Linked DNA regions of Homo sapiens: all the other regions are linked to region 2. The links come from fine-mapping of genetic effects on gene expression. A gene starts in region 2. Each other region holds a variant in brackets. All regions are shown on one strand. Distances are from middle to middle. Region 1 overlaps RMI1 (RecQ mediated genome instability 1). Region 2 holds the start of RMI1 (RecQ mediated genome instability 1). Region 3 has its middle 23 kb from the start of SLC28A3-AS1.

The links. PIP is the estimated chance that this variant, and not a neighbour inherited with it, causes the effect. A credible set is the group of variants that fine-mapping cannot tell apart.
Region 1: its variant is the best candidate, but not a certain one, in a credible set for the expression of RMI1 in spleen (GTEx, PIP 0.85).
Region 3: its variant is the best candidate, but not a certain one, in a credible set for the expression of RMI1 in thyroid (GTEx, PIP 0.75).

What each region holds. Positions count from the first base shown.
Region 1 is chr9:83,994,612-84,004,906 of GRCh38, reverse strand. RMI1 (RecQ mediated genome instability 1) reads right to left here. Exons shown (of 3, transcript NM_001358291.2): 2 at 5,110-5,198; 3 at 833-3,956. The coding sequence starts at 3,920. The coding sequence ends at 2,043. Among named protein-coding and RNA genes, the nearest start is that of RMI1, 19 kb to the right of the region's middle. The variant G/C (reference allele first, on the strand shown) is at 4,077.
Region 2 is chr9:83,976,603-83,986,713 of GRCh38, reverse strand. It overlaps RMI1 (RecQ mediated genome instability 1), which reads right to left and starts at 5,909. Exons shown (of 3, transcript NM_001358291.2): 1 at 5,823-5,909. HNRNPK (heterogeneous nuclear ribonucleoprotein K) reads left to right here and starts at 6,499. Exons shown (of 17, transcript NM_031263.4): 1 at 6,499-6,561; 2 at 8,262-8,341; 3 at 8,435-8,519; 4 at 8,928-9,025; 5 at 9,663-9,719. The coding sequence starts at 8,462. RefSeq lists silencers at 5,496-5,575, 6,386-6,525 and enhancers at 5,220-5,728, 5,786-5,875, 5,896-5,965, 6,096-6,155, 5,729-6,236 and 2 more.
Region 3 is chr9:84,250,135-84,260,429 of GRCh38, reverse strand. No RefSeq gene overlaps it. Among named protein-coding and RNA genes, the nearest start is that of SLC28A3-AS1, 23 kb to the left of the region's middle. The variant T/C (reference allele first, on the strand shown) is at 5,220.

The sequences.
Region 1 (10,295 bases), 18 kb before region 2:
GGGAATTCATGAAACACTGTAACAGGCACCTAAAGCTTAAACTGAATTGGAAATGATTTAGGAAGGTAGGGGGATCAGGCACTATAAGCATGAGTATGAAAGTAAGAGGTATATTCTTCCACATGTTTAGTGCACTACAAATAACTTGGTACCCCTAAAACTCAGAGGCAAAGAGTAATGGGGCAAGATAAGGCTAAAAAAGAAGTCAGGGGCCAGATCACGAAAGTCCTTACTTACTCAATGAGGAGTTTGGACTTCACCCTATAAGTAATGGGGTGGGAGGAGGTTGGTATTAAAGGTTAATGAAGAGAAAACAAGAAGAAACTTATTTTCGAAAGATCACTCTGCTAACATTATGGAGTACGGTTTGAGGGCAAAATAAGATAAAAGACCAATTAGTAAACCACTGCAGTAATCCAGGCCAGAGAAGACTAGAAACAGGATGTACCAAGAACCAATATAGTAGCATAGATTGATAAAAAGTACGATAGCCAGTCTTTAATGACAATATGAAAAGAAGTTCTAATCCCAATTTTCAAGCCCCATTCACAGAGATGAGAGTATAGAAGGAGAAAATTTAATGAAAAGATAATGAAAGATAAAGCTATCCCATTCAGATCACTTATTAAAAAGCTATGCAAGTATATAGACAAGATTATTACTAGGGCATATATTAGCAATATCTGTGTCCTGGTGCTTTGAACCCTGATACAACAATGAAAATATTTTAAAATCTTTCTCTTCTACTTCTATTATCATACATCATACATGTATTTATCTTACTTCCTGATATTTCGTTACATTATTTTCAATAAAATAAAACACCAATGTATTTTGTTATTTAAGGATTTGTTTAATGTTTTAAAATTCAAAGCACTTTAAATTATTTTAAGACAAAAGATTAATAAAAACAACATTACCTTTCAAATACAACTTTATAACAGCACAGTGGAAGAATGGTAAACAGTCCCTCTTTTTTTTAAAAAAAAATCAGTACTTAAAACCAAAGGAAGGCTTATATGTACAGCTAATTCAGAAAGGGAACAATGACACCTAAAGACATAGATAAATGCTTCATTTTAATCCAATAAATGTCCTACCTACTGGATCTTAATAATGATGTTTTCAATATGCCATTTAAAATAAACTATCCTTGAAAATAAAGTTTTAAATCATTCAATATAATCTATGAAATAGCATCTAGTTAACTAGATTACCTTAAATATACCAAATATTATAATCAGCAAAATAAAAACCAGTAAATCAATTTGTATCTGAAAGCCTGATGTTCTGATCTACTGGATTTTAATTTTTTTTCCCTAAGATTAACAATATAAACAAATCTTTTGGGTACTCAACATATTATGACAAGCTCAGGCATGTTCAGGGTGGTATGGCCATAGACAGTACCAACATATTAGAAGGAAATTACCTATTTATAATTATTAACTTTCAAAAATATGACTCACCACCGAACACCAGTACAATATTTTAGCAATCATCTTATGTGACGTGACAAGTGGAAAACAAATTTCTCAACAATAGTGGGTCACCATATTCCTCCATCTAACAGTTACTTTTAAAAAAAGTAAACTTTGGAGGCCATGACGGCAGGAGTGAGAGGCCAGGAGTTTGAGACCAATCTGGGCAACATAGCAAAACTCTGTCCCTACAAAACAATAATAGTAATTATAAATTAGCTGGGCATGGTGGTACATGCCTATAGTCCCAGCAACTCAAGAGGCTAAGGCAGGAGGATCGCTTGAGCTCAAGAGGTTGATGCAATAACCTATGATCATGCCACTGCACTCTAGCCTGGGCAACAGAGCAATACCCTGACATTAAAAAAAAAAAAAAAAAGATTAACTTATTTTCAAAAGCTCCACATATAACAAACATGATTAAACACTTTAAAATTAAACTGAAATAAGCTATGAAATTTCATTTTTCCTTTTTACACAAAGTATCATAAGTAAAATTGTGAACAAATTCTAAATATTTCCTTGTTGTTTTTAATTGTTCCTAATACTATTTTAGTTTAATTATTTATTTAACCGCTTCTTTAGATTCTCAAGGTGTTCCATATTAACATCTTGTAATGCCAGTACCATTGCTTTAGACAAGGAAGGATTAAATGAAATAGTCATTAGACAGCACAAATCTATTAGATCTCTTTGACATTTCTGCAACCCTTCCAGGAACTTTTGGTATTGAAGAGGATCCTTTTTTGACTGTTTCATTTCTGGTACTGAGAACCCTATCAAGCTAGTAAGTATTTCATCCACAAAGTCTACATCTAGATATGCAGTACCATCAGACACCTTTGCAGTTATACTCCAAATACCACCAGAACTTGAGAGATTTCCAGTTAAGGTTACAATAAATGCTTTCACTTTCACTGTTGTAACTTCCTTTGGTTTGCTGGCCATTAGAACAGACAAATAGACAAAGGGTGGAGAATACAAATCCATGGCAATAGAAAGATTAATGCTATTCTCTGATGATCTTAAAGAACAACTCTGTAAATTACAATCATTTTCATTAGAAATTTGTGAATTCCTTTTCTGTACATAGTTGACCACCTCTCTATTTAATATTTTATTATTTAAGGAATGGCTATCTGAACTGCTGGTTTGTTTTATTTTATTATCTGTCTCTAAGTTCTTTTCTTTATTTGTAAAATCATGGGCTAAGGGTACATTACAATGAACTGAAAAAATACTCCTGTTTTGGTCTCTAACAGATGGACAACCAAATGATTTGTCTTCATTAGTCATTTGTTCAGATACATTTTTTTCACTCCAATTATTGTTTCCATTTTTGCAAGTCAAAGAAAAGTTATTCGTAGTATTAGGATTATGTGAAAATCTCTCTATACTTCGATCGGCATTTCTGTTAAAAGTCAATGGTTGCAATTCCTTAGTTTCCATCTGTTCTTTCTGGACAGTTTCTTCTAAAAGCAAGGCCTCCTCCAGTGAAAAGTCATCTAATTCTCCATCCATTACATGTATAGATAGGTTTGATGGTTCCTCTTTTGGTCTTGGAGAAATAACAAATTCTGGCTCAAAACTTGACTGTCTTGTGGGAATGGTATTTGAGGAACTACCTGTGGTGAAACATCGTTCTGAGGAAGTGTCATTATTTGCTGTAAGCTCATCATTTTCATCAAGACTTGCCAAGAGTTCTTCATCAGAAGGACCTAATGCAGGATCTAGAACATCTGTAACTCTGGGAATGTTTTCGTTAGAATTGTTTGGTATGACTGAAACTACAAGATCAGGTTCCCCTATTAATCTTGCAAGTACTTTTTCTTGGGCATATTCTTCTAAAAGAGCATCTACTTCACCTCCTAACACTTTCACGTTTTCTGGTTTCAATAAGAGAACACCAAGACGGAAAGATATATTTCCATAAATCAAAATTTTTGTACCTGGAGGAAGATCACTATGAAGAATTGGAATAGGCTGATATTCCATTCCCTGTATTTGTACGATTCCATCAGTTAGCTGCAGCATCAACATTCGTGAAGGCTTTGCTTCCCAAGGTTTTGGGGTTACTTGTGCTTCAGCTGTAACTAGATCATTTGTTGTATTCTTTCCTCTCAACTTCTGTATCTGGGAGTATGCAGGCTGACTTACATCAACCAAGGAATTAATCTGCAGAGCATAAAATCCATTTAATTCTCCTTTTGGAATTTCTAAAATGCCATCGGGTAAAAGAGGATGCTCCAAATCCCTCAGATCAGTAAGGAGCCACTGCTCAAACACTTGTTTATTCATTTGGGCCTGACTCAAGTTAACATTATTATTTTCTTCTTGAATCCAGTTAATACAAGCTTCCAGCCACATCGGAGGTACTTTAACATGCCATGCAGCTAAAAGCCAAGTTTCAGCTCTTAATGCAATACTAGTCACATTCATTTCTTTTAAATAAAAGAAATAATATGCATCTATTACCTGAAAACAAAAAACAAAAAAATTTAGATAATTCAGTATATTTGAATACAGCTTCTGTAATTCTCTACAATGCACAGACAGGCACACCCTTTAGATTTTTCACTCTTCAGCATCTTACAT[G/C]GTCGAAATTGAAACACTACACATAATCAGATGGTAAAATGAGAAAATCAAAAGGTTTGAGACAGCTATACCTAGGTTTGAAAGCTGGCTCTGTCAAGTTACAAGATATGTGACCTAATATAAAATTCTCAACTTCTGTAACCAGTTTTTTCATCTATAAAATGTCAACACTACCATCTATCTTATAGGATTGTTAACAGGATCACATGAATTATATTTGTAAAGCATAATGTCAGACCTATAAAGGATATTCAGTAAACAGTAGTTACATTAGCCTCCCTTATCTATGGGGAATATGCTCCAATACCCCCAGTGGATGTCTGAAACTCTAAATATTATCAAACTTAATATATATTATTTTTTTAAATCCGATGACCAACCAGCTACTAAGTGACTAAAGGGTGGGTAGCATAAACAGCATAGATATGCTGGACAAAGGGATGATCCAAGTCCAGGGTATGATTTCATCACACTATTCGGAACAGCACTAAATTTAAAACTTATGAATTATTTCTGGAATTTTCTGCTAAATATTTTCAGACCTTGGTTGACTGCAGATAACTGAAACCACAGAAAGCAAAACCACGGAGAAAGGGAGACTACTGTATAATATATTATAATTGATCTAATAATCACATTCTAATCATTTAAAATTTAGTTAAGAAACAATGTTCACTAATGTTCTTTATGTATGTGCAATAGTTCTAATTTAACTCTATTAAAACATACCACTGTGTCTGTCCATTTAGTACTTGAATATGTGGTCTAAAGATAAAATTATAACAAATAACAGCAGACTCTGAGCTGATAGATGTAAAGCATCTTATTTGTTGGGCTAAATATTTTCAAAAGTCTGGCCAGGCAAATATATAAATATTTAACTTCTGATTTTCTCAGTATGATAAAGCAGTAGCAAAACAGTAAAGCCCAATCAATCATGTGTTCACAAAAGTATACTTTGTTCCTTCTACAGATGAAGATATTTATGAAGTAGAATATATTAAAGTTTTACTATGTCCATAAGAAAACTTACCACGAGGAACAGCAGCACAGGATTTGATGACAGAATTTGGAACTGGTTGTTAGTGGATTACTTGAAACCTCCACTGCTCAGAAATGGCCCTGGGAGATAAGACAAAAAGCAGTAAGAGTTATAAGATGAAGTTGTAGAAAGACAGGACTATTTTCTTAAGTGCAAGAGTTTGATGGTATGGTTCATGGGGATCAGAAACAAGAGACCATGAGAAAGTTACACATTCTCTCTAAGCCTGTTTCCTTTTCTATATACTTACCTCATAGGCTTACTGTGAAAATTAAAGAAGATAGGAGGTATAGTATTTGATGTTAAGAGTACATCTCTGGTGCTAGACTATATCATAAACTCTTACTTATAACCTCTGACTCTAAACAAGTTACTCAACTTCATGATATCCTACTTATCCTTATCTGATTTGTAAAACAAGAATAACAGGATTTTCCTCAGGCTTGTTATGAAGATTAGATTAATATGAAAAAAGCAGCACCTGGCACACAGCGAGAACTCAGTAAATGTATACTATTATTAGACTTACAGTGCCTACTACAGCAACTGGCAAAAAGCAGCCACTCAAAAACTATACTTATTGTTATTTTATTTTTTTTTATTTTATTTTATTCTATTCTATTTTATTCTATTTTATTTTACTTTTTTGAGACAGAGTCTTGCTCTGTCGCCCAGGGTGGACTGCAGTGGCGCAATCTCGGCTCACTGCAACCTCTGCCTCCCAGGTTCAATCGATTCTCCTGCCTCAGCATCCCCAGTAGCTGGGACTACAGGTGTGTGCCACCACACCTGGCTACTTTTTGTATTTTTAGTAGAGACAGGGTTTCGCCATGTTGGCCAGGCTGGTCTCAAATTCCTGACCTCAAGTGATCTGCCCACCTCAGCCTCCCAAAGTCCTGGGATTACAGGTGTGAGCAATCGCGCCCAGCCATTATTTTAGACTGAATGACCAATTCCTACATTGGATAAGTTCTACACTGCTCTGAAATTACTGAAATGAGACTTTTTTGTAGGTTCTCAAGAAAATAATATATACCTACCTGAGATTTTAGGGGTTTAAACCCTGAAAATGCTAATACAGCTCACCTTAAGCTACTGCTATAACAAAACTATTTTACATTGCATCCCCAAAAACAGCTGAAAGAAATGCAGCACATGTCTGAGAAATGGAAGGAACTAAAACTTCAGTTTATTATTGATTCTAATGCTAGCAGTTGAACATCTTTTCATATTTCTCAGTGACATGGATTCCTTATCACTGCCTCTAAACAATTTCTCCTCTTTTGTTCTGTACTTCTGTCCTAGCACATAGTAAATGTATGTAAGTGCTTGCTACCATTAAAAATTTTTAAATGTCCCATAAAAGAAGACATAGAAGCATATAGTTCTCAGGAACCTATAAACAGTGGGTACATTATTAATTTAATTTAATGGATGATTAGAATTTAAAGGACATGGGGAAGTTAAGGTCATAATTATAGAACTGATTAATCTTTATATTAAAGAAAATGAGAGTATAAACATTTTTTAAACTATATGTAAAAAACAATGTAAAAATTCAAAAGTACAAAAAGTCTTTACTTGTTGTGATGAAGATAAACTATGCAGGTCAAATGAGCAGGTCTCTTTAACAAAGAAACCAAATCTCCACGCCAGCTCTCTGATTTACCAAATGGAAATACTTCCTATCTTGGCTGGGCATGGTAGCTCACGCCTGTAAACCCAGCATTCTGGGAGGCCAAGGTGGGAGGATCACTTGAGCCCAGGAGTTCAAGACCAGCCTGGGCAACAAAGCAAGATCCCATCTTTAAATTTTTTTTTTTAATTAGCCTGAGCATGGTGGTGCATGCCCGTAGTCCCAGCTACTAGGGAGACTGAGGTGGGAGGACTGCTTGAGCCCAGAGGTCGAAGCTACCATGAGCTATGACTGCACCACTGTACTCCACCTGGGCGACAGAGCAAGACCCTGTCTCTCAGAAAAAAAAAAAAATACTCCCTATCTTATTAAGAAAAGCAAAGTATAGGTGATATGGTTTGGGTCTGTGGCCCCACCCAAATCCCCAGTGTTGGAGGTAAGACCTGGTAGGAGGTGACTGAATCATGGTGATGGATTTCCCCCTCAGTGCTGCTCTCATGATAGTAAGTGCTCCTGAGATCTGGTTGTTTAAAAATGTGTGTGGCACAGACGAGGAGAAGAAGCCCCTATGCCAGTTTTCCATGTGACACCCTCCTCCCAGTGGGTGCGGAGCCCTCCTCACTCCTCTCTGACCCGCCCTGTTACACAGCCCACCAGGGTCCAGGGAGGCATTTGTTCTTGCTTTAAGTCAGGAGTAACAAATAATTTCTTTCTTTTTTTTTTTCAATTAAGGGAAAAAAAGGGCCAGGCACAGTAGCTCGTACCTGTAATCCCAGCACTTTGGGAGGCCAAGGTGGAAGGATCACCTGAGGTCGAGAGTTCGAGACCAGCCTGACCAACATGGAGAAACCCCATCTCTACTAAAAATACAAAATTAGCTGGGTGTGGTGGCGCATGCCTGTAATCCCAGCTACTCAGGAGGCTGAGGCAGGAGAATTGCCTGAACTTGGGAGGCAGAGGTTGTGGTGAGCTGAGGTTGCGCCATTGCACTCCAGCCTGGGCAACAAGAGCGAAACCCTATCTCAAAAAAAAAAAAAAAAAAAAGGGGGGGGTGTTGGACTTACCTCTACCTTTAAAACCACCCAGAGCCCTGCCAAAAAAAAAAGGGGGGGGGAATCCACCTCTATCTTTAAAACCACCCAGAGCCCTGCATCCCGCCCCATGTCCTATGTTGTTGCTAATGACAATATGATGTTTACTCTGTTATTCAAAAACTATTTTTATGTAATTAATGTATGCTTTGTTTATAAATGCCTGATTAAAAAAAAAAAGTGTGTGGCACCTTCTCCCTCTCTGCCCTCCCCCTGCTCTGGCCACATAAGATGCACCTGCTTTGCCTTCACTTTCACCATGATTTTAAGTTTCCTGAGGCCTCCCCAGCCTGCTCCTGTACAGCCTGCAGAACCATAAGCCAATTTAAACCTCTTTTCTTTATAAATTACCCAGTCTCAGGTATTTCTTTACAGCAGAACAAGAACGAACTAATCTAATAGGATATATAGTATGCTAACTTTTGTATACAAAACAAAGGAAAATAAGCACATTATTACTTAATAAACATAAAGTACCTCTAGATGGATATACAAGAAACTAGACAAAAATTTAAATATTTAGCTACACTCAATAACAAGAGTAAGATCTTCGTGGGTCAGGAACAGATGGCAAACTTAAGAGTGGTTAAGTGGGCACTAAAGCCGTGCAGCCCCCAGGAAAAGGGCACTTAGCTAAAAACAGTGTAGCTAAAGATACAAAGCTCCAGAAATCCAGCATGCCATGGATGGGACAGAAGACCAGAAACAGACTCCTTGCTGGAACTGGGCCAAAAAAAGTTCCACCCAACACCTACATGTGGCGGGAACAGAGTTACCCTGAGAATAGACACTGGGCCTGCATAACACATATAACACACGTAGTGTGGTCCAGAACTGGGCTATTCACTAAGTAAAAACCCAAATTCCTAATGAAACAGCTGACCTAGAGCTATGTCAGCCAGAGGGACAGGTGGAGTAAACTCTAAAGCCACACAAAAAGGGTAAAACACACACAGGAAAAAACAATCCAACGTGAGCCTGCAAGCCAAAATTATAATACACTTTAGGAAAATTACTACCAATCAGCAGACAGAGCAAATAGAATTTACACCTGAAGACAGTTTTTTAAATGAAACATCTTAATTTTTTTTTTATCTCTTTGAGCATACTAAATATACTTAAGTGGGACTAACATCCTAAAAGAAGAATAGAAGATAATTAAATGATCACGGGCATTTATAAAAAGAATCTACTGCAAATCTTGGAAACAGAAAATGGTCTCTAAAATTAAAATCAATAGATGGGATAAACATCCAGCTAACAACAAATGAGGAGATAACTTATGCATTAGAAATTACCTAGAACACGGTATAAAGAAAGATTAAGATATTACCTGCTGGGCGCAGTGGCTCACGCCTGTAATCCCAGCACTCTGGGAGGCCGAGGTGGGTGGATCACCTGAGGTCAGGAGTTCAAGAACAGCCTGACCAATATGGTGAAACCCCGTCTCTACCAAAAATACAAAAATTAGCCGGGCGTGGTGGCATGTGCCTGTAGTCCCAGCTACTTGGGAGGCTGAGACAGAAGAATTGCTTGAACCCGGGAGGCGGAGGTTGCAGTGATCTGAGATCGTGCTATTGCACTCTAGCCTGCGCAACAGAGTGAGACTCTTGTCTCAATTAAAAAAAAAAAAAAAAGATATTACACAATGAGGAAAAAAGAACTAAGAAGTAGGGAACATAGTTCCAACAGTGAAATAATTGCAATTTCAGAAAGAAAAAATAGAAGAGGTGAAGGAAATGTTTTTTAAAAAGTAATGGTTGAGGCCGGGGCAGTGGCTCATGCCTGTAATGCCAGCATTTTGGGAGGCCAAGGCAGGTGGATCATGAGGTCAGGAGTTCAAGACCACCCTGGCCAACAATGGTGAAACCCCATCTCTACTCGAAATACAAAAATCAGCTGGGCATGGTTGCACGCACCTGTAATCCCAGCTACTCGGGAGGCTTAGGCAGGAGAATGGCTTGAATCTGGGAGGCGGAGGTTGTGGTGAGCCGAGATCTCGCCACTGCACTCCAGCCTGGGTGATACAGTGAGACTTCATCTCAAAATAAATAAATAAATAATGGTTGAAATTTTTCCAAGATATTATTTTCTAGGTTGAAAAAACTCTCTACTGCTAATCAGTATTTTTTTAATCTACACTTATACACAGTAACATGGCAAAATACAAAACATTAAGGATAAAGAAAAGTATCAGAAGACCTAACAAGCTGGATGTAAAATATAAGATAACAAAAATGTGGGAGCTAGACGTGGTGGTTCATGTCTGTAATCACAACACTTGGGAGGCCGAGATGGGCAGAACGCTTGAGCTCAGGAGTTCAAGACCAGCTTGGGCAACATGACAAAACCCCATCTCTACAAAACATACAAAAATCAGCCAGGTGTGATGTCACCTTCTGGTGGTCCCAGCTACTTGGGAGGCTGAGGTGGGAGGATCACTTGATCCC
Region 2 (10,111 bases):
GAAGACTTTGCTGAAAATAAATTAAAACCTATTTTGTAAGACTTAAAATTTTTTTAAAGATATCAATAAAAAATGTACTTCTACATCTACAATGTTATCTAAACCTCAAAACAGTAATTTTTTGATAGAAAGAGTATTCTCATCTATTTTTGACAATGATGAAACTGAGGCATGAAGATTAAGGCATACATATCATACCCAACAGCAGACCCAGAACTAGAACATAAATTCTGCTAATCTCCATTCTTTTACCTTTTTCTGTCAACTTAAGTGGAAAGAGGAAGTAAAACCAGTCCCTCAATTCATCTATAAAACCCACTTATGTATAAAATCCACATATAAACGGCCATTCTATAAGAGTGGTTTGCTGCTACTATAATGAACAGAATTCTCAGATCTCACGTAAATAACAAGCCCATCTAATGCATTCTAAATTGTTTCATTTACAAAATCAAATGAAAGAAAAACTTAAAAATATCACCTACACCTACTATATTTATCTTTGTGATAGCTTCGACATAGTGCTGCGGTTAAGTACTACTTTTCCTTTTGCTATAACCCTACTAACATAGCACATAAAATAATTTTTACATTTTTTGAATATTACAAACTGATATTCTAAGGCTTATGTATCAGTTTATTTTTTAATTTTTTTTTAATTCCAAACTTGCTCTTCCTGGTATATGCTATTGTTTTGGTGGGTTTTTTTTGGAGTCTTGCTCTGTCGCCCAGGCTGGAGTGCGGTGGTGCAATCTCGCCTCACTGCAAACTCAGCCTGCCGGGTTCCTGCCATTCTCCTGCCTCAGCCTCCCAAGTAGCTGGGACTACAGGCTCCTGCCACCATGCCCGGCTAATTTTTTTGTATTTTTAGTAGAGACGGGGTTTCCCCGTGTTAGCCAGGATGGTCTTGATCTCCTGACCTCGTGATCCACCCGCCTCGGCCTCCCAAAGTGCTGGGATTACAGGCGTGAGCCACCGCGCCCGGCCGTATGTGCTACTGAACACCGCAAGTGGCAAAACTCCTTTCAGCCAAGAGTTGGGATGAATTCTGAAAAACACTGCTCAGTGAACCCCAACAACTAAACTGTTCCATTAAATGTGTCAGTCCTAATTAATAACTCTAAGAACCACTCTCAACTTCTGAAGCTGACATACTATGAATTTACAGTAATGTTATCATAACTGGGCAAAGAAAAAAATTCCATTGACTAAACACCCAAAAGATAACCAAGACACCTGTAAAACACAAGCAAATGTGATAAGAGATACTTAACACTGTACAAGCATTCCAATACAACTATTCTCAAATATTTTACCAAAAAGTCAAGAACTTTAGGGGAAATAAAATAACTGCTAACATACATCTGTTACACAGATTTCATCACTTAACAACAAAGTAGAAAGTAGGATTGATCTAGGATACAGATATAATTCCTACAACTGCATGTCTTAATTATAATAAAAAGATGATGTGTAATAGGTTATTTTTCCTACAGATTAGAAAGAGAAGCTTATTAAAATGTTTAATCAAATGGAAAAATATTATGTAAGATCTATATTATAAAGTTTAGACTGGATATTAATAATTGAGACCTTTAATAATTTGGTAAATTATATTAATGGCATCTAGTCCTTCAGATAATTCCTAAGGTTTTCATCCCTTCTTTGCTTAGGAAATTGGGTAACCATAGTCACAAGCAGGTAGAAGCAGCTCAGAGGCAGAGGTTAGCAAGGGCAGCACAAATTCCCATGTGCAAAGAACAGCTCCTGATCCTAAAGAACTCCACTGTCCAAGAAAATAATAATAAATTTGGAAAACTGTCTTTTAAATTATACAGTAAGATATGTTCGGGCTGGGTGCGGTGGCTCACAGCTGTAATTCCAGCACTTTGGGAGGCTGAGGCAGGTGGATCACCTGAGGTCAGGAGTTCAAGACCAGCCTGACCAACATGGAGAAGCCCGTCTCTACTAAAAATACAAAAAAATTAGCTGAGCCTGGTGGCGCATGCCTGTAATCCCAGCTACTAGGGAGGCTGAGACAGAAGAATCGTTTGAACCAAGGAGGCAGAGGTTGCAGTGAGCCGAGATTGTGCCATTGCACTACAGCCTGGGCAACAAGAACGAAACTTTGTCTCAAAAGAAAAGAAAAAAAGATGTTCAAAACTGGTAATCCCAGCACTTTGGTAGGCCAAGGCGGGTGGATCACCTGAGGTCAGGAGATCCAGACCAGCCTGACCAACATGGAGAAACCCCATCTCTACTAAAAATACAAAAAAATTAGCCGAGCTTGGTAGCACATGCCTGTAATCCCAGCTACTCGGGAGGCTGAGGCAGGAGAATCGTTTGAACCCAGGAAGCAGAGGTTGCAGTGAGCCGAGATTGCGCCACTGCACTCCAGCATAGGCAACAAGAACGAAACTCAGTCTCAAAAAAAAAAAAAAGGTATGTTCATACCATATTATCCACTTCTTTTACTTTCCAGAATTAAGGACATAATCATAAATAAGGACAAAGAAAAGCCATATATTTAAGGAGATAATATCCCCGGTACTGTGATTTGATCTTTACAAATTAAGTGAATATATTAAATTATCACATATACCCCAAAACTATGTACATCTTTTATGCATCAATAAGTAACAAAATAAATAAAGACAAAGATTTATGTGGCAGAGAGTTTACCACTGAGTTTTTATATTTTGAAAAAAACAAAATGTTCAAAATGGGAAAAAAAGTTAAATACATAGCACTACCACCATGAAATGAAAAGCTATGAAATCTTTAAAGAAACCATTTTTAAGAATTATTTAATGACAAAGAAATACATTCACATTTTGTTGGGAAAAAGAACACATATAAAATTACATACAGCTTAATCCCCATTAATTTTATAATCAGGAAAAAACATTTTTAAGAAAGCTGATTAGCATTGTATGAATGATAAACTTGGCTGACCACACTAATCTGCATTCTAGATCTGTACTGCCAGGAACTGAACAAAAGAAAATAAAGTGGGAAAATTTTATCACCTACCACGAAGGTCTAGGCATATTTGATTTACAGATTAATTTTCAGTCAGCCTCATATATTCCAATTTTTTTTTAATAAAAAGCGAGGCAGGAGTGTCATCCTTTTGGACCTTACGTGTGTCATTCTGACAATAGCTGAGACTTAAAAGCACTAACGAATATTTAAATCTACTCCACAGTTCCATTATCTTCATCTAAACAATAAAGGTAAGTCTACATTTTAATTCATTGAGGATGAGTTCAAGGTAATCCTGGAATTTTTGAGAAGATACTCCGAAAATTAGGGAGGAAAAATTTATACCGTATATGACTGAAATTAGAAGAAGTAATCAGAGGAGATTTTTATGGATCCTCCATAACCTAAAGTAAGGAAAAGACAGAAAGAGAATCTGGAACCCCATTTTGCTATGTGACCTTGGATATGTTCCTTAGCTTCTCTTAGTGCTAGTTCATTCGTTCACAAAACAAAGATAACTAACAACTTGCTCAAAGAACTCTAAAAAGTATTAAACTGCCAGCACAACGTTTAGCACACAGTGGGGAACTCAGGAAATAGTAGTTATAAATACTATTTTAAACAATAATGCAGCTGGATAGTGTACATTCTCAATTATATTAGCCCATCTAAAGTAAATCCCCCATCTAAGTAATATTGGGTCTAAATTCACTGAGTCCAAAGTGATCACTACACCATTACACCATTGTACCAATTACACAAGACTGGAGTCAATGAATGTATTGTTAAGTTCTTGAATGAACACAGGTATAAAATTATTGGGTTGAAAAGTCTTAATTTCAAACAGAGAATAAAAGGATGGAGAAAAAAGACTTTCCTGTTATTTAAAGAGCAAACCTAAAAATTAAAAAGACGTAAAGAAGAAATCAAATGGGGGGAAAAATAGCAACCATCCCACAATGGCATCTAGAGGGGATGAATAATTTACACCAGTCGGGGTCCAGTCTGGACAATGAAACTGGGAGGAAGAGGTTTTTTTTTTTGTTTTTGTTTTTGTTTTTGAGACAGGGTCTCGCTCTGTCGCCCAGGCTGGAGTGCAGTGGCGCGATCTCGGCTCACTGCAAGATCAGCCTTCCGGGTTCACGCCATTCTCCTGCCTCGGCCTCCTGAGTAGCTGGGACTACAGGCTCCTGCAACCACACCCGGCTAATTTTTTTTTTTGTCTTTTTAGTAGAGACGGGGTTTCACAATGTTAGCCAGGATGGTCTCGATCTCCTGACCTTGTGGTCCGCCCGCCTCGGCCTCCCAAAGTGCTGGGATTACAGGCGTGAGCCACCGTGCCCGGCCGGAAGAGGTTCTTATATAGGGCTGCTTACTTGTGATTCCCACTCATCATTCCTTATCAAGAAAATGATGACTGCAACATAAATCCTAATTTGAAAGAAAGCACAGCATCATCATTACCGTACCGCTATTTGTGCATATTAGTGTCAGTGACATGTCTCAGGTTTTAAATGACAAACTCAATTAAATGTTGCAAATACTAACTGGCGGATTAAATCTCTATAATCCAAGTATCCTAAGCCCCTACATAAACTCATCAGTTTTGAATATTTAATAAAATTCTGAACTTTGTGTTTTAGAACTGAAATGCGAGTTAAGTTTTACCTACCCAACAAGACTATACACTCTTCATGGTGGGGACCATTTAAAAAATTATATTATCACTTAAAGAGAACTTTTATAAATTCCACAATCCCGGACATTATGTTCTAACAGCATGTGTTAACGTATCCTCCCAGAATGTAAATACTGGTGTTTGTCATGAAATCCTCAGTGCGCCCTAACAAGAGTTTTCCTCTAATCAGTCAAGTAAAAGATGCTGGGTGGATGCAATCATGGCCATTTAAAAGAATGCTGGTATATATGTTTTGCAAATTACCCAAGAAGGAAACATTATAACAGGAATGAATCAGCACAAATTCATCAACACTAAAATATATGCATGTATTCGGCCAATGGTGGATTTCGCTTTATGTGCAGATTATGACACCTTTATGCTTCAAAATGAGTTTGGGATTGTGGGCGGAGGCTGGAAGGTTGACGAGTAAGGATGTGGAAAGCGGGTACTACCAGGGCTGGAGATTTCCCAGGGCTGTCACCGATTGAAAGTGACCTTATGTGCCTTAACAAAGGAAGTCATGAAAGCTTGGCACAGGAGCCTTAAAAGTAAGGAACCGAATACAATGCAAGTGTGCGCTGAACCCGCTAGAACAGGAGCACGTTTGAGGGCAAGGGTTTTTGTCTGTTTTCATCACTGCCACAAGGCAGGCGCTTTGAATGGAACGTGGAGGTCTGCAACGTATTCAGCGATACGCATTCATTTTAGGAGACAAGGGCAATACATATTGCCTAAAAATTTTATCGGAATAAACTACAGCGACGACACTACAAAATACTTCCATCTCAGGTCCCATTACCCAAGAGGAAAGTCTCAGAACCGAGAGCCCTGTGAAACCGCCTGTGCCCTCTCGGCGAGAAGTTCTCCAGTACTCCCAGGCTCGCCCCGCGTTTCCCCGGCTCCCGCCCCGGCGCAAGGCAGGCCGAGAACCGCCAGCTGCGCCCCCGGGCCCGGCCTTGACTGACGGGCGCCCCGGACCATTACAAACAACGGGTTTCCGAAGCGTGGGCCCGGCCCAGCGGACGCAGACGGCCCGCACTTACCGCGCCGCAGCTCGTCCCACAGCCCACAGACCACAGCCCGGGGCGGGGTAAGGGGCTTCGGGCACGAGTGTGGGCTGTGAAAACACGGGCATAAGTCTGGGCCGAGCACCGACCTGGGCGTCCCGCATTTTCCTCGCGCAACATCGGTCCCTGGGCAGCGCAACTGTAAGGACAGGAACCGCCGCGGCGCGCTCCCAGTTCCTTTTTTACCTCTTCCCGCCCGATTTGCCGCGCGCTCGCGCCCCTCCTCCAACCCCAAAGGACTCCTTCGGGGCTGGAAAACGCCCCTTCCCCGCCCCCTCCCTGTGCGCGTGAACTAGGCAGTTGTTAGATCTCGCGAGAGGTTCGCCCCCTAGCCGCCCCTCCCCCCAGCTAGTGAGTGCGCGAACGAGAAAGGAGGAGGGCGCTCCAGGCGACAGCACTGCAGACGCCATTATCCTCTGTTTCTCTGCTGCACCGACCTCGACGTCTTGCCTGTGTCCCACTTGTTCGCGGCCTATAGGTAATTGGAGTTATTGGAGCTTGGGTATTGCTGATTCGGGTAAGGGTTGGGGCTCCCTGAAAGGCTGCGTTTACTTTTCCCAAGCCCGGGTTTTCTCGAGCCCTTAGTGGCCTCCCAGCCCGAAGGGAGGCGCTGGCGGGAGGCGGGGTTGTCGCCTCCTCCGTCGCCTTGATTGACGTGGCCTCGGGCCAATCGCTTCGCCCTCGCACCATCGCTGAAGCCCTGGCAGCCAATAGGGCGCGACGGCGGGGAGGACGCGAGAAGGCGGGGGAGGGGAGCCTGCGCTCGTTTTCTGTCTAGCTCCGACCGGCTGAGGCGGCGCGGCAGCGGAGGGACGGCAGTCTCGCGCGGTGAGGAGCCGGGTTGGGGGAGCGGCTCGTGGAGGTGAGGGTCGGAGCCCAGTTTTTCCGCTTGAGGGAGGCGTCCTGGGAGCCGCTTTGGTGTTTGGCCGCTTCTCCGAGTGGGAACGTTGCCCGGTGTCCCCTCCCCCACCTCCGCCATTTCCCTGAGCGTGTATCCGCAGTCCGCGTTGTGGTCCTAGAGACTTGGGGATTCGTGAGGCATGTGCCTCTAGGATGAGCTGGAGCTATGTGGCACTGGGAACTAGGGACCTCGTGGAGGAAAGGAGGCCGGTGCGGGGAGAAGGTCGCGCCGCCGCTCTCTTTGTGTGAGCCCCGCCTCACCTTGGGTCTCCCGGCCCGGGGTCGGAGCTGGAGCGGCGGGGATGGAACGGTCAGGGCTGCCTCGATGGCTTTGTCTCGGGCAGTGGGGGGAGGATGCGGGGGATGAGACCTCGGGACCGCGTGGTGGGTGGGGGAGGGGGTCGGCGCTCGGCTCCGCCTAGTAGCACGTAGTCGCCATTACGCGGGCCGCCATTTCCTGTCGGATCCGGGTGAGGAGAGGTGCGGTGCTTCTGCTGTCGACTTTCGCTTTTTCCCGTCCTGTTACCCGGCTGTTTTTGATCTCGGTGCCGGGAGGCGGGGAGGGGAGGGCGCGTTGGCGCTCGGCCAGTGGAGCACATACTTAGCGGATTTTTGAGGCCTGGGGACTAGTGACTGCAGGACCCGAAGGGTGAACGGCAAGCGGCAACGTTATTCTTACAGATAAGCCCTGCTGTTTTTGCTTAAACTTTCTTATCCAACTCTTCTCCCACCACACCTCAGAAATTGCGTGCTGGGCCGGAAGGATGTCGTTTCAGTTGTCGTTAGGAGAGCAATAAGTCGACCAACGGTATGGGAGAATGGGAGGCATAAATGTGCCTCGCTTGTTGGCTCTTTGCTGTCTAGCCAACCTTCTAGTAGAGGCCGCTTGTCAACTCCTAGTCCCGACAAGAGGGAAGCTTAAAAAGGCTGTTTGTAGTCCTATCGACCGTTTTGGCACGTAGACACTTTAGTTTTCGTGTTACAGGCATGATTGTTGTGTTGTACTCCCTTAAGCCTAATTTAAAATAATCCGCTAGTGACTGTTAGTTTTCAAGGGCTCCATTTGTTTCGCTGATTAATAATAGACTGGTATTGTGGTAGTTTGGGTCTGGTCCTATATTAGATTTTTGGATTTATCCCTCCGGTAGATTGTTCTGGTTGTTGGATGTGTTCGCAATTGCCGTTGTATTTGTAAACTTTAGAGATGTCACATAAGATCGCTTCAAGCATGAGTCGAAAGAAATAGGAAAGCAATTGGAAGTTTTAATATAAAATTAGTTTTCCCAGTGAATAAGATGCATTGTAACTTTTCATAAATGTATGCTTTGTGGATGACATTTATCTTTTCAGGGTTTTGGGAATGTGCCGTATAAAACAATTCATTGCTGTGGTGGGACTTAATCCAGTGGCTAAAAGTTATTGTTCTAACTTAGCAAAAAATGAAACCAGGCTCCCTTGAATTTTGTATTTTTTAGGCAGTCATTTGAATTGTGAAACCCTAAAATGAAGAATCAAGTTTTAGAAACAGCTGGTTTTTTGGGTTCAAATCAGTATTCACTGTGATCGGAAACAAATATTCAGTAATAAGAATAAACAAAAGCAAAACTGATTTGTGTTGGTTCTTATAGGCTACTGCAGCACTGGGGTGTCAGTTGTTGGTCCGACCCAGAACGCTTCAGTTCTGCTCTGCAAGGATATATAATAACTGGTACGTTCTAGAAGCAATGTCTTTTTTTTTTTTTTTTTTTTACAGCTTGCTTTCCAATAAGCCAAATGTACTAGCTGCTTTATTTTTCCACAGATTGGTGTGCCCGTTTAATAAAAGAATATGGAAACTGAACAGCCAGAAGAAACCTTCCCTAACACTGAAACCAATGGTGAATTTGGTGAGAAGAAATTTTAGTTTTAACAGTATTTTTTTATCCTGTTAATAAATTGCCTTTTTCTGTTAATTATTGCCTTAGGAGTGTGTGGTGAATTTTTGGTATTACTGTTTATGTAATTCTGCGATTATCAGTAGTTACATCTTAGCTTTTATTTATGAAGTAGAAGTAACTGATTTGCATATAAAGAATTTTTCTTGCATTTTGGGATTTCAAATCCTTTGAAGTATTTTGTGGCAGTATTTTGTGTTTGGTGCATTTTACTAGATGGAAGCATAACGTTCAAGTCTGTAGCAATGCCTTTGGTCTTTTCAAAACATGCCTAAGATTAGCAACAAGTCTCTTGAAACAGAATGGAGTTACTTTGGAGACTTCGCTGCTTTCTTTGAAATGTGAACTGTTAATTTTTAGGTAAACGCCCTGCAGAAGATATGGAAGAGGAACAAGCATTTAAAAGATCTAGAAACACTGATGAGATGGTTGAATTACGCATTCTGCTTCAGAGCAAGGTATAAATTTTATTCTTGAAAATTTGAAGGTGGTTCATACTCAGGTAGAAATTAAGGTCTGGTTTGGCTTTCTAGAAAGTCAAAGTTTTACAGATTGAAGAATATAAAACATTTGGTTCTTTCTAAACAGACTTGAAGGCTCTGGTGGTTTTCTTATTCCACTAACAGTTAAGATTAAAGCCCTTGCTGTAGTGAACCGCCACTACAGGTCAAACTAGGAGGAGAGTGTGATTCTTAAAGTGTTAATAGATTAAATCTTAATTATGTGTGGACTCCTTAGGAAACTGCTTGGTTGGCAGTTTATTGTTTGATCACAGGTCACAATATGAAGGTACCTACTAATACTAAATTAATTGACTTATTTTACCAAAGGGTGCTATAAAATCTGTGCTTAGTTTTATTTTATACTTGGTGTTATTTCTGACATTGAGTACTCCAAACTATCTAGTCCTCACAGCACTTAGAATTATATTTTGATTTTTGGTTTGGTTTTGGCCTGGTCGTTTTTACAACCCCAAATAGATTTTTATTCTTATAACAAACAGGTTAGAGGATTTTTTAGCAAAATCTAAGAGCGTAGGTAGCTATTAATTTTAGGGAAAGGCAAAATAATTTTTTGTCTTTGTATCTTCTCCAGAATGCTGGGGCAGTGATTGGAAAAGGAGGCAAGAATATTAAGGCTCTCCGTACAGACGTAAGTATTAAGAGTTTAAACTACTACACGAGCAGCTTCAGTTTATATGTCTATAGAAATTTAAAGATTTACATCCTAGAAATCATTTCATAGTTTAGCTACAAAGACATTTGTAATAATTTATTATTACAGAATTGATTTCGAAGTTATCCATTCCTGTTTTAACAAAAGCCCAGATTGAGCAGGGTGGGGGGGTGGTTTCTTTCAAACCTCTTCACATTTTAATAAGAGTCCACCAAATTATTCACTTCATCAAGCAAGATAACATCTTAATTAGAAATAGCGACAAAGTGTAAAAATCCTTGATTGCACCATTTCCTGTGTGTGAATCAATTACAGTATTACTGAAAACCATTGCAGGTGGCTGGTTAAATCCAGAAAAATTTTTTTGT
Region 3 (10,295 bases), 270 kb before region 2:
TAGACTTGTATTATTTTAGAATCAGACAATAACTGGGAGATTATCTATTTCAATCTTTCATTTTCTTAAGAAAGAAACTGGTGTTGCCAGAGGTTAATAAATTTGCCAAATATGACACAGCAAGTTAGGTCAGAACTGAGACCCAAACTTTGGTCATCTCTCAAGATAGTTTGGACTAACTATGACCATTTATTTAACTGTGCCTGGAAAGTCATGACTTTCCTTTAGCCTGTAGAACAGCAAGCCAATAACAAGGAAGAAAATATCAGTTCAGTATTTTGCTCCATAATTCCAGCAGTTCAACTTGGCTTTGTACTAGAAACAATGATTAGGACAAACACTATCTGAGGAGCATCAAGATGAATACAATAGTAAAGCCCTAAAAATCAAATAAAATCCCTAACAGGTCACAGCCATTCAAACGGGATAGAAGATTGAGGAAAATTCAAGCAGAAGGAAGAAGATGCCTCTCCAGGGATGCTGGAGACCCTGAGCCCTCTCTCACAAGATGTGACTATAAAGTAATGCGACTGATTTTAAAAGAAACACAACCAGAGCTTACACATCTAAGTGAGCCCTGTGTTGCTTGGGGAGCTGCGTTTTTGTGGCAAGGATGCTGCCGCAGCTCAGATATTAACTCTTGTTTGGGAATTGTCTTCAGTGTCTTCTTTAGCACGTTCTTCTAAATGTTGATCACACACACAAATCTTGGTCATGCGAGAGTGGAGTTTTTTCTAGAAAACTTACAGTGTCAACTCTTGGAAAAAGGTGGCGGGTCAAGGTAGATCATCATATTTTGGGATAAATCTGAGTTGCATGTATTAAATAGTAACTGGGTTCATTTTCCCTTGTGGCTTAAACATTGGACGGTGTGCTTCATCTAGAGAAAAAGATTCACCCACATGGAGTCAGTCAAGGAAAAACCTTAAGGAGCATGAACAAATCTTTGTGTTACTGACTTCAAAGAAAGGCCTCTTAATTCTAGTTCTTAATAATTTTATGTCTGTTGATAAGCTACTCTTCTGTCTCTCAACCCACATCTAAGCTCTTCTAAAGGAAAGGTCAATTATTAGATCAAATCATATGAAATTACTGCTATTTGACCATATTTAATGTACAAAAATCATGTCTTTCAAGGTAATCCATTTAACAGCTTTATATCTTAATAGAGGCCAGGTGCGGTGGCTCATGCCTGTAATCCCAGCACTTTGGGAGGCCAAGGCAAGTGGATCACAAGGTCAGGAGTTCGAGACCAGCCTGGCCACCATGGTGAAACCCCATCTCTACTAACAATACAAAAAATTAGCCAGGCATGGTGGCAGGCGCCTGTAATCCCAGCTACTCGGGAGGCTGAGGCAGGAGAATCGCTTGAATCTGGGAGGCGGAGGTTGCAGTGAGCCAAGATCACCCCACTGCACTCCAACCTGGGCAACAAGAGTGAAACTGTCTCAAAAAAAAAAAAAAAAAAAAAAAAAACTTAGTAGAGTGGTAAAAAGCAGTTCAAACGTGTTATCTAACATCACCCTGCTGCTGAGATGGACAATACTGAACATCGATATTGAGATCCTAGAGCATGTGATGTTAAACAGCCTCACAAGAGCCAAACGTCAGTTTTCTCTCTTAATAGTCCTATTTTTTATGCATTTAGGTTTTTCTCACCATCTAATTTAAACTGCACATCTTGAGGGTATAAAATATTCTGCCAAACACACCCACAAACAGCCTTTCACAATCAGGGCTATTCTGTAAAAACCATCCGTCTTACCCCAAGCAATGATGATAATGTGATTACCTACATATTGGAAAGCAGGTCTGCCAATTTGGTCCCTCTAGGTCCTGGGTCTCAGCCAGACAGGCCAGCTGATCTGATTTGTGCCTAAGCGATTTCACTAAGGAACAGAGTGTACCCTCCGCCTTTTCACCTCCCTCCCGCAGGGCAGATGTGACCCGGCCGATCACGGTTGAAGTTACTGTGCAGTGAGCCTTCTTTCCCCCTCTAGTTCTTCTCTTTGCTTTTCATTTCTTCGTTATCCTGCATTTATCATCAAAACGTGATCAGAGAAGCCCCTGGCCAGTTCTGCCCCTTCCCCCCTTGCTACACACCAGGGTGGACATTCATTTGAATATTCAGATTCATCCTCCAGTGTCTCTAATCTGCCTGGGAGAAAGGACTCATTGGTTAGAGCATAGAAATTTCTGGTTATTATTTCAGCATACAAATGTCATTTTATGTTTGGGTGGGTCTGCAAAAACTGTGTGACGTTTATTTGCCTCTTACATGATATTCTTCTCAGTGAAGAAAATACATCACTGATAAAATCTGGCCCCATGGGGTTTACCCGGTCATCAGCAGAGCTATCAAGACCCCGCGTAGAAGAGGCCTGCTCCGTGCTTCCCACCCAGGACTCAGCATCGGCCTGAGCAGAAAACCTGCACCGCCCTCCCAATCCCCTCCCCTACTCTTTTTCAGCAATCACTATCAGTGGGAAGTCACTCTGCACATTCAATTACATTGTGACAAATCTTAAATTGTTCACCTGCGCCTCAAAATGAAAAAAAGTGGGGCTACAACGCTATGGAATTATGGTCTCTGCTGGGGTCTTCCTAGTAAGTCCTAGGCCTGGCAGGAGGTGTTCACACGTCTTTTGTTAGCAGCTGGGCTGACCTCGCCTCAAGGCTCTTTTTCATTATTGCTGCCTGGAAAGGTATTTCCTGTTTTTTGGGTTTTTTTCTTTTAAAAAATATTTTTTTAATGAATCTTTCGTGATCACGAAAGCAATCTCTTTTCAATATCAGAAAATTAGAAAATGTTAACTGGGCCCAGTGGCTCATGCTTACAATCCCAGCACTTTGGGAGGTGAAGGGGGGAGAATCACTTAAGCCCAGGAGTTTGAGATCAGCCTGGGCAATATAGTGAGATCCCATCTCTACAAAAAATTTAAAAATTAGCCAAACATGGTGGCACACATCTGTAGTCCCAGCTACTCAGGAGGATTGCTTGAGCCCGGGAAGTTGAGGCTACAGTAAGACATGATTGCACCACTGCACTCCAGCCTAGGCGACAGAGCGAGACTCTGTCTCAAAAAACAAAGAAAAAATTAGAAAGTGTTGATGAGAAAAAAAGGAAAATCAAACCATCATATTCTTATTCCCCCAAGATTACCACAGTTAACCCCAATGTGCAAATCCTCCCACACTTTCTCTCTGTACATATATATGTATTTTATATATACATATACAGGTATACTCTTATAAGTATATATATATATACATATATAAAATCAGTCATCTTTCCATGTCAATCAATTTTCTTCTTATTTAATGCCTTTCCAATTTTCTCCATTGTCCCCAAAACATCTGTTATTTTAGGAGTTTAGCTAAACCACATCCAATCCAGGACCACACGCTGTATCTGGTTGTAATGTTTTTAAAATCTCTTTAAATCTAGAACACTCGTCTCTTACTGCTCATCACTGATTGAAGAGTCTAGGCCAGTTGTCTAGTTAAAGACCCAGCCTCTGGAATTATTTGCCTTGTTGCTTCCTTAGATGTTCAGTTTTTTTGGGGGTGGGGGGTGTTGTTTGTTTTGTTTTGTTTTGAGACAAGTTTTCTGTTTGGTTTGTTTTGTTTCTTGCTCTGTCACCCAGGCTGGAGTGCAGTGGTGCAGTCTCGGCTCACTGCAACCTCCACCTCCCAAACTCAAATGATCTTCCCACCCCAGCCTCCTAAGTAGCTGGGACCACAGGCTGGAGCTACCACACCCAGGTCCTCAGTTATTAAGCTTGTTCTTCCATCTCTATATTCCCTGTGAACTGGAAATCAGATCCAAGGGATTAGATTCCAACATTTCTAGGCTAGAATCCATCCGGAAAGCTGTGGAATGCTTTACACTGTCCCACATCAGCAGACACTTCACACTCAGTTGCTCACCATTAGTAACGCTCCCATTGCCCACTGGGTAGGGAGATGATAGTCTAATCTATCTATCCAGGAAGTATCCTTTGGGGTGTTACTTTGGCAAATTATTTTCCAGACTTTAAACCTTTGTAGCCAGTATCCTGATCCAAAAACCATACCATAAGTAACTAGTAAAGAACAGACAGGACCAGTTTGAGATCAAAGCCAGGGAGGAGTAAGTGGGGAAGAGTGAAGGTACGAATTTGCTTAGTGTTCACAGCTGGAAGGAAGACTCACTGTTACAGTTTTCACGGTGCCCTCTACCTTCCAAAGTAATTGATAGACATTACGGAAGCTTGGTGTACATCACAAGCCCCGAGGACTCGAGGGAGACTGAGCAACTGGGAAAGTCAGCACCGGGTGTTGTGTCATTTTTTTTTTCCTGAAAAGCTCTTCTCGGGAGGTCCTCAGGGATTCTGATTTCTCTTTTAACACTCATTAGTCAAGGTGATAATGCCAGGCTCACACATATAAGTTCTCCAGAAATAAGAACTGCCTGTAATCTTCCTCAGAGGAGCCTGATCTAAGTATCTACTTGAGCTACAATCCCATAGGGTTGGATATTGTCACAGCAACGAAACACCAGCAGGGACCTTGATCCCATCTCCCCACCTACCTACTTTAATCTCTGTCTCGGTCCTGGGGAACAACAATTCTGTGATAAGGACGTCATGCAGGTGAAGTTGTTTAATAGAGCTATGGTTGCTGAGTTCAGTGCTAGATAGGGGACCCCAGATGGGGCTCTCTCAGGTACACATCCCATCAGGCACCCACTGTCACTGTGATTTGGTGGTCTTGTTAGCCATGCACAGTATAGGTTGTGCTGTTTGCTTTTTTGAGGTAAGAGGGGCACCGTATTTCAGACAGCAGGAAAAAACCTGAATTTGTCAATCCTATACATACAACTGCATTTATACTCAGGAGAAATATACCTCTGAAGAGGTTTGCCTCTGTGCCTTTAAGCAAGACATTCGCAGAATAAATCAGAGCTGAGGTGGCTCTGTCTGAGACTGTCAGGATGGCCCAATTTCCAGAATAATAACAGAGATGTGCTTGGATAAGGCAAATTGGCTCAGGACATGAGAGGCAGAGAAAATACATAACACAGCCCTTGGCTAAGCGGAAACTCAATAACTACCGTCTGAATGATGCAGCCAGGTAAATCTCCTAATGGACACCAAGTTGAAAATTAAAAGGAAAAAGAAGAGCACAGTGTTTAGAAAAATGGGTCCTACAGGCTCTTCTCCCTGCTGCTTCGATGC[T/C]AGGAAGGTTCTTCTAGACTGCTTTTAGTACAAGAAGCTTGTACAACCAGTTCGGCTGGAAGTGTGCCTGCCACCCTGCCACGGCCCTCATTAGATGACTCTGACCTGTTGAAAAGCTGAAAATAGAACATTGAGCCATTTTCTCTGCAGCTCAACTGTTATAATTGTCTGTCTTTCTAAATATTAGCAGTACCCTAGTTATACCGTCATTTTAAAAATACTTGTCCATTTTTACCTTTTCTTAACACCACTGACCACCACACTACTTTTCTTCAGGGAAAGGTTTTTTATGTAAAGAGAGGAGTGACTTTCATTTTATTTCCTTTCTCCCTAGACAGCTAGAGATATTACTTTAAAAACAAATTCTTGAGGGCTTTTATCCTTGGTTTAAATCACCTGGAAAAATCAGTAGGGAAGAATAGAGTATTTCCTTAGTTACCAATTGGCTGTAGTAACTAAAGCCTGCAAAAATCCATCTCACACTTCCTATTAAAATTTTATAAGCATTAAAAATATTCACTTGGATGCTGTATGGTGTTTTTTCTTTTGCGACCAAGCTGAATTTTTTTCACTCTGACTTCTATAGCCTGGCTGATTTTTCTTATTTACTTACTTAAAATTTTTTTAAATTAATAAGTGAACTCCTGGCAGGGAACAGGGCTCACAACTGTAATCCCAGGGCTTTGAGAGGCTGTGGCAGGAAGATAGCTTGACACCAGGAATTTGAGACCAGCTTGGGCAACATAGTGAGATCCCATCACTAAAAAAAAAACTTTTTTTAATTAGCCAGGTGTGGTAGTATGTGCCTGTAGTCCTAATTACTCAGGAGGCTAAGGCAGGAGAATCGCTTGAGACCAGAAATTCAAGGCTGCAGTAAGCTACGATCACACCACTGCACTCCAGCCTGGGTGACAGAGAGAGACCCTGTCTCCAAAAAAAAAAAATAATAATAAATAAATAAATAAATAAATAAGCGAGCTCCCAGTTCTGTTCAATAAACCAATGGCCTTTGAATTTTCCAATAGGAGTCTCTTCCGAATCTGGAACCAAGCCTTGGCAACACAGAGTGTTGGATGGACAACACACATAATAAACTGTTTACCCTGAAATGCATGTTTCAAAGGCTTCTCTGCATTAGATGACAGACTTCCTACAAATCATAACTAATATTCATGTCAACTTCCCTTTTCCAGCTTTAAAGCTGATACAAATGCCCTCTCTGGTATCTGTGGACTAACATTTCCCTAGCCCCTAGTTCTCACTTTCTATGTGCTTAGCTTAAAGGGCCTGACTCCAACTGGACTGAATATTTTTTTGCAAATCTATGGGCTTTTGAACATCGGACTTTTCAGGAATCTTATTTAAAGCACAAATTTCCAGGCCTCACCTTCCACAGACTCTGATCTGGTAAATCTTAGTAGGATCCATGAGTCTGCATTTTCAACAAGCTTCTGTCCCCACCCCAAGTAAATGGTCCTTGGAATGCACTTTGACCAACATTTCTCCAAGAATGTCAATCTCCAAAGCTTTTGATTAATGCTGTTTTCATTCATTTAGTCAACAAATGGTGGCTAGGTACCCACTATGTGCAGGATGCCACTTGAGGGACAGATAAATTTCATATGGGCCCTGCCCTCAAGAAACTTACAATCTAATGGGAGAAATGAGACGTGAACATCAATAACTAACCAAAGGAGTAAGAGGTGGTCCTGAGAGAGACAGATAAAATATTATAAGAGTTCAGAGGAGAAAGAGGTAACATTGAGATAGAAGGGATAAGGCATGGTTTTATGGAGAGATGAGGTATGCATTAAACCTGAAAGTACAAAGTATTTGGGCACATGGAGGTAGAAAAGCAGAGTCACTGTCAAACATAGCAGGCGCGAGCAAAGCCACAACGTGGGGGAGGATGAGGCTGTGTAGGGAAGAGGGAGGCATTTAACTTGCTTGGAGCACAGGGTGCAGGCAGGGGCAGAGAAGCAAAGGAGCTTATAAAAGAGAGTTGTAGCCAAATCCTGGAGGGCTTTGAATGCCAAGTCACAGAGTAGGGTCACGAGTAAGAGCTTTAGGTATACCCGGAAAACGGGTGACTGTGAGCCGAGTTGCAAGTAGCCACAAGCTGCACTAAGCAGGTAGCAATGTGGCAGCTGTGGGCATTCTTCCTAGACGGAGGGAAAAAAATCTACTGAGCTCTTCTCTGTAAGAATCCCTCAACCCTACAGTCCAGCCAGAGCATCATTCATTATTTCTCAAAATATGATGTCCAATGTAAGCTCACACCTTGCCTTGTAGTAACCCATTAATGTTAGAAAAGGGCTAGCGCTTTTACCTGTGGGTTTAACCATCACAAAGCCTATAAGTGCTCCTTGAGAAGAAAGGATGAGAACAAAATGCAAGGTGAGAGTGCTCCATGCTCTCACACTTTTCTCCTCTCGAGAACACTACTACTTCTCCACACATGCTCCAACACACACATACACACACACAGCCAAAACTTAGGGGAGATGGCTGGCTGAAAATAAGGGCACAGTGGTATTAAGACTAGACCTTCCCTGGTCAAATTTTCCATACCCTGTTTAATGAGTAAGTTTTATTTACAGTTGGCCCAACGTAGCCCAGGTTCTTTATTTGTAGATTCAGCCAGCCTTGGATCAAAAATATCCAAGAAAAATAAAAATAAAAACAGCAATACAACAACAAAAATTATTACAAATAATAAACAATACAGTCTAACAACTATTTATATAGGATTTACATCGTATTAGGTATTATAAGTAATCTAGAGATGATCTGAAGCTTATGAAAATATGTGCATAGATTATATGCAAATACTATGCCATTTTATATCAGAGACTTGAACTTCTAAGGATTTTTGTATCCTCAGAGGTCCTGGAACTAATACCCCATGGATACAGAGTGTATTACAGCACTATGTATGACTCTTTGTAGACTTTAAGGGTTTTACAACTTCCCCGATATCTACCCAGGAAAAAAACAGACCATAAATACTAAACATCTCATTCTTTCTGCAGTCGTAATAGTTCTATCGCCAGCACTTCGCCACCACCACCCCTAGATCGAGGTCCCCAGCTCAGGAGCTGACTGACCATCTGCATTTCAAACAATCACATGAAAATCCATAATTAGGAGGCTAATGCCTTTGCATGCATTTCAGAATCACCAACAGCATAGATTACATGAGCAAATTGCGTCAATAAATTCAGCTGCCACCCTATTTTTCACCCGAGTCTTATCAGAAATACAAAACAACATGTGCCAGAGATAAATGAATTACAGTCAGAAGCAGGGACCCAAGAAAAGCAGGGGGACAGTGGGATTATTTGCCCAGGTGAAGGGTCATTTATCCAAGAAATCTAATCAGAGGCAAATAGCATATACTTTTTCAGGGAAGGGGGAGGGCAGGAGGGTTTGTTTCTGCTTGCTTTGTGACAGCAGCAAAACCTCTAGCAAGTGCAATATGTCTCCTGTGACCTTTTTGCACATCTAATATTCTCAGCAGCCATTATATGAGGAGTTAGGAATCCAGTGCCCACTACTCTCCTCTGGGTTTCCTCCCTACAGAGAGAATAGGCCAACAAATGAAACAGATGTCTTAGCTGCCTACCCTGCAGCCATGCTGGCCCATTCCTTGTGTGACCTGATCATTGTGGATCTTGCTTTAGGAGAGGACAGGAGGAGCGATCTGAATGCTTGTCACCTTGGATGAAATGTGAGTCTCATCACAGACATATCCTTGACTCAGTCCTCTTCACAACAAGCTCTGTCTGCCAGAGTTGCAGCTGCTCTGTGCGTCCTCCCCACAACCTAATGCAGAGCCACAGGACATGCAACACCCCTGAAAATCTGACCCAAGTAAGATACAACAAAGGTGTTTCTTGCTCTGCCTCGGTGGAACACAATGGTTTTGTCATTCCTCTTTCAGTCTCATTCACACACTGTCCCCACAGTGGTGCTGCCATCCTGGGGTGACTCCAATGCAGGTACAAGCAATGGCAGATCAAAAGGTAATATTGTCTCCCTACAAACCAACTCCTTGGAGACCCAGAGGCAGCCACAGGTCAAGGAAATAGCTCGTGGCTTAAGCTGAGAGATCCAGGCACAGTGATAAGGGATCTTTAGCAGGAGACCAATTTGCAAGCTGGTTTTTGCTGAGGAGACAACTAGCACCTGCAAAAACTGTCCCTTGTCTCCTGGGGTATCTGAGATGTCGGCCAAGGCTTCCTCCCACAGGCATAGCATAAGTGCTCATGGAAATAACCCCACACACATACACACATACATATGTGGGCATATATACACACACAGACTCACACAGAGACAAACTGCTACTGGATGGAATCAGGGCTACTCTAGAGTGATGCTCTGGAGGGATACCTTGAGCTGGGACCTCGGATTTCAGAATCCAGGGAAAAGGCTCTAGAACTGTGCTGTTCAGTATGGTAGCCACTAGTCACATGTGGCCACTAAGTGCCTGACATGTTGGCTAGCCTGAGTTGAGATCTGAGATCTGCTTTAAGTCTTAGCATGAAATAATGTAAAATATCTTGTTAATAATTTTTATATGATCAAATGTTGAAATGACAATATGTTAGATTGTATGTTTCCTATTGCTAGTGTAAATTCGTGGCTTTAAACAACTTTTAAAACATGTAAAATATATTTAAACAAATGTATTATCGTACAGTCCTGGAGGCCAAAAGTCTGAAATGGATCTCACTAAATTATAATCAAAACATCAACAGGGCTGCATTCCTTCTGGAGGCTCTGGGGAGAATCTGCTTTCTTGCTTTTTGCAGCTTCTAGAGGCCACCTGAATTCCTGGGCTCATGGTCCCCCGCTTCCTCCGTCTTCAAAGCCAGCAACATCCCATCTGTCTGACCCATTCTTCTGAAATCAAACCTCCTTCTAACAACAGCCAGTAAAGGTTATCTGCTTTTAAGGACTCATGTGATCATATCAGGCCCAGATAATTCAGAATTATCTCCCATCTCAATGTCTTTAACTTAGCCGCATCTGCAAAGTCCCTTTTGCCACATAAGATAACATATTCATGGC